Linked DNA regions of Homo sapiens. The protein of the gene in region 1 interacts with the protein of each later gene in a biochemical or structural test. Each region holds a gene or a part of one and is shown on either strand. Other genes may lie near its edges.

Region 1 (3,110 bases):
GCATGGATGTGTGTGTAGTTTTTTAAAGATAATTTCAGACATACAGAAGTCTTGCCTAAATATTGCAGAATTCTATATACCCTTTGACCAGCTTTCCTTTATGTTCGTATCTAATGTCACCAAAAAATATTTATCAAAACCAAAACATATACCTTGGTAGAATACTGTTATTAAGTGAACTACAGAACTCATTGACATGAGTTGCACTAGTTTTTCCACTAATGTCCTTTTTCAGTTCCAATATCCAGTCTAGGACTCCATATTCCATTTAGTTGTCGCATCTCCCAAATCTCCTCCAATCTGGGTCAGTTCCTCAGTCTTTCCTTATCTTTCGTGGCCTTGACATTTTTAAAAGTGCAGGTTATTTTATTTATTTACAGTTTTTTTTTTTGTTCTTGTTTTTGTTTTTTTAGAGGCAAGGTCTCGCTCTGTCACCCATGCTAGAGTGCAGTGGTGGGATTATAGCTCACTGCAACCTCAACCTCCTGGGCTCAAGTGATTCTCCCGCCTCAGCCTCCCTAAAATATTTTGTAGAGATGGGGCCTCACTATGGTTGTCCAGCTTGGTCTTGAACTCCCAGACTCAAGCAATCCTCCCGCCCTGGCCTCCAAAAGTGCTAGAATTACAAGTGCGAGCCACCATACCTGGCTTTTTTTTTTTTTTTTTTAAATAAACACTGTTTATTTTTTTGAGATGGGTCTCGCTCTGTCACACAGGCTAAAGTGTAATGGTGACCATAGTTCACTGCAGCCTTGAACTCCTGGGCTCAAGTGATCTTCCCACTTCAGATTCCTGCAGAGCCAGGACTACAGGCACATACCACCATGTCTGGCTCAGGTCAGTGATTTTAGAGAATGACCCTCAATTGAGGCCTACCTAATGTTTTCTCATGACTATTGGGTTGGTGCAAAAATGAATGCGGTTTTTGTCATTACTTTTAATTGTTTTGCCATTACTTTTAATTGTTTAAGGTTACACATTATTGGGAAGAATACCATAAAAGCCATGTGTCCTTCCCAGTGTCTCAGCTATCTGATGTCTGTATGGAGTACTTCTGACGTTCACCTTGATCACTTGGCTGAGGTGGTATCTGCCAGGCCTCTCCAAGGTAGACTTAGTATTTTCCTTTCTTTTTTTTTAATTAAAAAAAATTTTTTTAAATAAAAATAGAGGCAGAGTCTCACTATGTTGCCCAGGCTGGTCTCGAACTCCCATTTCAAGTGATCCTCTTGCCTCAGCCTCCGGAAGTGTTGGGATTACTGGCACGAGCTACCACACCAGGCCTAGACTTATGGCTCTAAATATTACTTACGGCTCCAATATTTCCTCTTTGTAAGTACTAAATATTTAGAGGAAATATACTAAAGTTATGCAAATACAATTTTACTTGTATACTAGGATGGAACAGATAAGTAAACATATTGTAGACAACAAGAGCAAGGTTTTTCACTACAGGAGAAAGAAGAAACAAGGAGAGTTAGACTGGACTGGAGTTGGAGGTTTCTAGATGAACTCATGTTTTTTTCTTTTTGACAGCTAAACAGACTGTTTTTTAAAAACCTGAATGTTACCAAAATTTAAAAATTGATCGATTTAACGGCCACATGTATTTTTTTAAAAAAGCTTTACATGTCTTGTGAAAATATTAGAATACCAGCCAACGTTAGGCCCATCCTCCTTCATGGCCACAGTCTGCAGCAGCTGAGTCGAGTGCGCTTCAGTTTAGACCCCTCCCCTCCCCTCCCTGTTGTCTTCTCATTCATTTGCTTTATCTTTCCAGCCTCTGTTGGCTTTTGAGTCTGTGACGCTTTGACTAATCCAACTCCTCAATTTCACAGATCAAACCAGATTAGATTAGTAGCAGAGAAGGGACCAGAGCCCAGATCTCTTTCCTCCCAGTCCAGCATCCGTCCCTCTCCACCATCAGGAGAACAGCCTGCAAACCTTCGCTAGCTCACTCATAATGCCCACCATTTTCCCAGACAGAGGGTGCACTGGGGCTGGCCACAAGCACTCATGGGGTGGGACTGAGGTTCTGGCAAGTGGGAGGGCGGGAGGGGGCCAAAGAGCTGGTTACCAAGGAGGTTTCCTGAGTGGTTGGAGAAGAGGGGTCCCCCACTGGAGCCGCTGTGCACAGCACACGTGGTCTGCAGCATTACGGGCGTGCCATTCACCTGCACCACAGCCGAAAGGATGCCTGAGGTCACCGAGGGCCCGCAAGACTGGCCAAAGACGCCAAAGCCCACCACACTCACAGCCTCGCCTGCCAGGGAAGGAAGGAGGGTGAAGCTGGGGACACCTGTGTTACAGCAGGACTCACACTCCCTAACTCCCATCCCTACCCTCTCCAAACATTCCAAACCTCTCCACCCTTCAAGTTTCTGCTCAGATACTCCTGCCTCCAGAGAGCCTTCCCCATGTCCCCTGGCTGGAAGAGGCTGAGAACTCCACTGAGCTCCTAGCACTGTATCTGCATGACCACTTCTGAGCAACAGGCTGTTCCCTAGTCCTTGTTCCCTGGACAGGCGGGGCAGTGACTTTTAGGAGTTCCTAACACCTACCTACATGCTCAATAAATGTTTGTGGAATTCACACCCATCTCCTCCTGGAACTCCTAAGAAGTCTCTTCGTGAAAAGAAATGGTGATGATGGCTATAATGCAGCCATGACCTTCCTTTTCCAAGTGCAGGGTATGGGGGTAAGTGCTTTACAGGCAACGTCACACCCAGCCCTCACAACACCCAGAAATAGGATGCATTAGCCCCATTTCAAAGACGTGGAAAATGAGGCAGAGGATAGTTAACTAGCCTGTCCAAGGACATGGGACTAATAGGTGGCATAGGAAAGATGCCCATCCAGAGCCCCTGGACCCTTCATCACTGTATCACACTGCCTCCATGGAGTGCAACATCAGTACTTATGTGGCAGCATCACAAAGCCTTTTACCCAAATCGTGCCCCTGGAGCCTTGAAAGTGCCACATGCCTCTCTGACCAGCCTGAAGTGTTAAGGAACCCCAAAGGCCCAGCATCCTCACACTACATTGCTGCAGGCACTCGGGGAAAGGGCGTGCAGCATTATCCTTCCCAGGGCACTCCATGTGCCCCACCA
Region 2 (4,181 bases), on another chromosome or scaffold:
ACTGTGGGAACAACCCAGTTCCCTTCTGAACCTGTTGCTCAAATAAAGTGACTGTCAGAAGTGGCCATGGTACTTTCAGAGCTTTCACAGATAAATCCCCTTCGAGAGGCCTTTCCTGCTTCAATATTTAAGTGAAGACTTTTAAAAAGGTGCAGAGACACTGGATTTTTACCTCTGCTTTGTTCAGTGGGGAGTTCTTAGCCCACTCAAACAAGTTTTCATACACATTCCCATCATAGCGGCCAAGCACAGAGCCAAGTGTCACATCCTGAAAATCAAATGCATCAACCAAAGCAACAGCATCTGAGCGAATCAGAGTGAGTAACTCCTTTACACGCTGGTTTACTTGTGTAATCTGAGGCTCTGTCATGATGCTCCCCTAAAAGAGACCAAAATAAGTAAATAAAACATATATATGTATATAGATAGACATAATTATATGCATATACAGCTATAAAGCGGATGACAATTATTTTTTTCTTTTTTTTTTTTTGAGACTGAGTTTCACTCTTGTTGCCCAGGCTGGAGTACAATGGTGTGATCTTGGCTCACCGCAATCTCCGCCTCCCAGGTTCAAGCAATTCTCCTCCCTTGGCCTCCCAAATAGCTGGAATTACAGGCATGCGCCAGCACACCTGGCTAATTTTGTATTTTTAGTAGAGATGGGGTTTCTCCATGTTGGTCAGGCTGGTCTCGAACTCCCGACCTCAGGTGATCTGCCCGCCTTGGCCAAAGTGTTGGGATTACAGGCATGAGCCACTGTGCCTGGCTATTTTTCTTTTTCTTTTTTTTTTTTTTTGAGACAGAGTATTGCTCTGTCACCCAGGCTGGAATGCAGTGGTTTCATCTTGGCTCACTGCAACCTCTGCCTCCAGGGTTCAAATGATTCTCGTGCCTCAGCCTCCCTAGTAGCTGGGATTACAGGCATGTGCCACTGCACCTGGCTAATTTTTGTATTTTTAGTAGAGACAGGGTTTCACCAGGCCAGGCTGGTCTTGAACTCCTGACCTCAAGTGATCACCGTACCCGCCTTGGGCTCCCAAAGTGCTGGGATTACAGGCATGAGCCACCGTGCCCAGCCAACAATTATTTTTCTTAAAACAACAACAAAAAAGACTTATACTTAGAAAATACTGACCTGAAGGAAATCCCCCGCGTTCTGACTGATTCCATACAGAGAATACAGCAGACATAAACTCCTTAAGACAGCTTGAATGGCTTTATCTTGAATTTTGAGGAGTTTTTCTGAAAAGAGCTTAACTACCACATAGTGGCAATGTGCCTAAGATTAAAAAGAAAACACCAGAGTTTGAGAACCTTGGAAAAAGATTCAATATACAGTGACTAGGGTTTCTGTACCAGAAAATGCGGGATGCTGAGGGCAGGGAAGGGGAAAAAGAGAGAACTACCACTGACCTCACTTGCTCGAACAAGGTCAACAGAAGTTAGGTTCCAAGCTACCTCCTTGCTTTTTCTGTGAATCACTTCTTTTTGAAGGTTTTTTGCAGCAATTTCTACTAATCTGTTAAGACATAGATTGGAGGTCTGAGGAAATGATCAACAGTACTCATGCCTTCTTGCCATCTGTCAGGGCCCCAGCCCCACTGCTGCGTATTCTAGCTCTTGAGGGAGAGCTCACCTGGCTGCACGGAGTTTATATGCTTCGGTTAGGCTTTCGGGGCTGTTGATATCCACCATGGTTGGCCAGACTGCTACCTGCTGTGGCTGGATGCGCTGACTGGGCAGGTCGTTCAAATAGGACACCATGCCACACACCAACTTTCCTGAGTGCACCTGATCATAACTTTTCATCAGGAACCTAAAAGTCACCAGTAAACATGCTTTTAGTAACTCTACTTTCTTTTGTTTCTTTTGAGATGGAGTTTCATTCTTGTTGCCTAGGCTGGATGGAGTGCAATGGCCAGATCTCAGCTCACTGCAACCTCCTCCTCTTGGGTTCAAATGAATGATTCTCCTGCCTCAGCCTCCCAAGTAGCTGGGACTACAGGCACCTGCCACCATTCCTGGCTAATTTTTAATATTTTGTTTTTTTAGTAGAGACAGGGTTTTACCATGTTGGCCAGGCTGGTCTCTTAACTCCTGACCTCAAGTGATCTACCCGGCTTGGCGTCCCAAAGTGCTGGGATTACAGGAGTAAGCCACCACACCTGGCCTTTTTTTTTTTGATGGAGTTTTCGCTCTTGTTGCCCAGGATGGAGTGCAATAGCGCAATCTTGGCTCACTGCAACCTCCGCTTCCCAGGTTCAAGCGATTCTTCTGCCTCAGCCTCCCAAGTAGGCCGGGATTACAGGCAATGTGCCATCATGCCCGGCTAATTTTTTTGTATTTTTTTAGTAGAGACACGGTTTCACCATGTTGATCAAGCTGGTCTTGAACTCCTTACCTCATGATCTGCCCACCTCAGCTTCCCAAAGTGCTGGGATTACAGTCATGAGCCACTGTGCCCAGCCCAGTAACTCTATCCTTGATACAACTGCAAGCTATGTAACAGGTGCTTCATACTCTCTAGCCTCACCACGAAATAAAAACCGTGAGTCAGGATGGAAGGCAAAAGTATACCTTTCAGGAACAAATATATATATACGGTGAAGAAAAACCATGGGAACAAGAACCTAGGAAAAGGACTAGAACATTCTTATGAACAGATGGGAGGAATCGAGGATTTGACTCTCACCTAGCCGTCTGGAGCATCATGACAGTGTTTTCTCCCTCAAAGGTACAGCTTGGGGTGAAATTGACATAAATATTTGGAAGACCACTGCAATGAGAATAGCCATGCCCACCACAAGCCATCCGACATGCTTCAATGCCAGTGTTTGCAGTCCAGGAGGTGAAAGCCTTCAGTCCAGCGGTGAGGGCATGAAGCTGAGAGGACAAGCACAGATCTGTCAGGACATCTGTGGTGCTGAGAGCCCGAGAACCAATGAGAAAACACACCCCTCCTCTAACATCTTGGCCACTGTCAAAACACAGCTGCCACACATGCAAACTGAAGAAGCACAGCTGTCCGACTGGCCAGAAGAATACAGAACACTACCCATGCCCATCTAAGCTGTTCTACTTGGCTAAACATTCACCACTTACATTTCCTTGATTGACAAATAATCAACATGGTACAGTATTTCTGATAACACTAAAAATACTGAACAACAAACCCCACAGATCTTCATATCTGATCTACTTTCAACCAGAAGAAGTTCTCAGAATACATACTTCTTTTCAGGAAATACCAACATTTAGTTATCTCTGGACCTCATCCAACAGGCAACCACGAAACAGAAGGGTGCCCATGAGTGAATGAGACCAAACTCATACCTCAGGCAGTTCACTCAGGTCCCCTTGACCAATGCCTTCGTTAATCCGGTGATAGGTCTCCTTCATGTATGCGCCCACAAACTGGAAGGCATAGGCAGTGGCCAGGAGTGGAAAGAGTTTATACTGCTGGGTTTGAAAATCCAAAATCTGTGGTTCTGGTTCACTACGTGACATAGAAAAAGAAAAAAAGTAGTAAGTAAATGTTTATACAGAACTTTCTATATGCCAGGTTCTAATCTAAGCACTTGGTATTTTAACTTATTTAGTCCTCTTAAGGGCACTGTGAGGTAGTTACTATTACTATCTCCATTTTACAAATGGGAAACTGAGAGGTTAAGAATCTGCCTGAGGTCACACAGCTCGTATGTGGCAGGTCTTAGATTTAAATTGAGGCTTTTTTTTTTTTTTTTTTTTTTTTGTGATGGAGTCTCCCTCTGTCACCCAGGCTTTAGTGCAGTGGTGCGATCTTGGCTCACTGCAAGCTCCGCCTCCCAAGTTCAAGCGATTCTCTTGCCTCAGCCTCCCACAGTGGTGGGATTACAGGCATGAGCCACGGTGCCTAGGCTATTTGGCTCCCTAAGACCATGCTGTAATTACCTTGTACTGCGTAGGCTGACAGAATTTTCTGGCTGCAAAGTCCATATCTGTCCTAGTCTTTCCAGTATGACTAAGAAAACCGTAGCTCATAGCAACATACAAAACCAACGCTAGTCAACCTAATAAGAAGGCAATGCCAAAAAGCTCTACTCACCAGATGGCTGAATACATTGTATTTTGACCACAATCTTGGAGAAGACCCAATGGATGGTGTTAAATATTTTGAAGTGTAAGAATTAGCAAGGGTC

The links.
Region 2: of the proteins of TYSND1 (region 1) and ACOX1, one has a biochemical effect on the other in vitro, tested with the Homo sapiens proteins (one study listed by BioGRID).

The regions. Positions count from the first base shown.
Region 1 is NC_000010.11:70,140,591-70,143,700, forward strand, and holds part of TYSND1 (peroxisomal leader peptide-processing protease), read right to left. Parts: intron 2,264-3,110; coding exon 2,078-2,263; intron 1-2,077. UniProt on the Homo sapiens protein: Peroxisomal protease that mediates both the removal of the leader peptide from proteins containing a PTS2 target sequence and processes several PTS1-containing proteins.
Region 2 is NC_000017.11:75,948,079-75,952,259, forward strand, and holds part of ACOX1 (peroxisomal acyl-coenzyme A oxidase 1), read right to left. Parts: intron 3,500-4,181; coding exon 3,337-3,499; intron 2,887-3,336; coding exon 2,696-2,886; intron 1,820-2,695; coding exon 1,640-1,819; intron 1,523-1,639; coding exon 1,417-1,522; intron 1,283-1,416; coding exon 1,139-1,282; intron 380-1,138; coding exon 173-379; intron 1-172. UniProt on the Homo sapiens protein: Involved in the initial and rate-limiting step of peroxisomal beta-oxidation of straight-chain saturated and unsaturated very-long-chain fatty acids.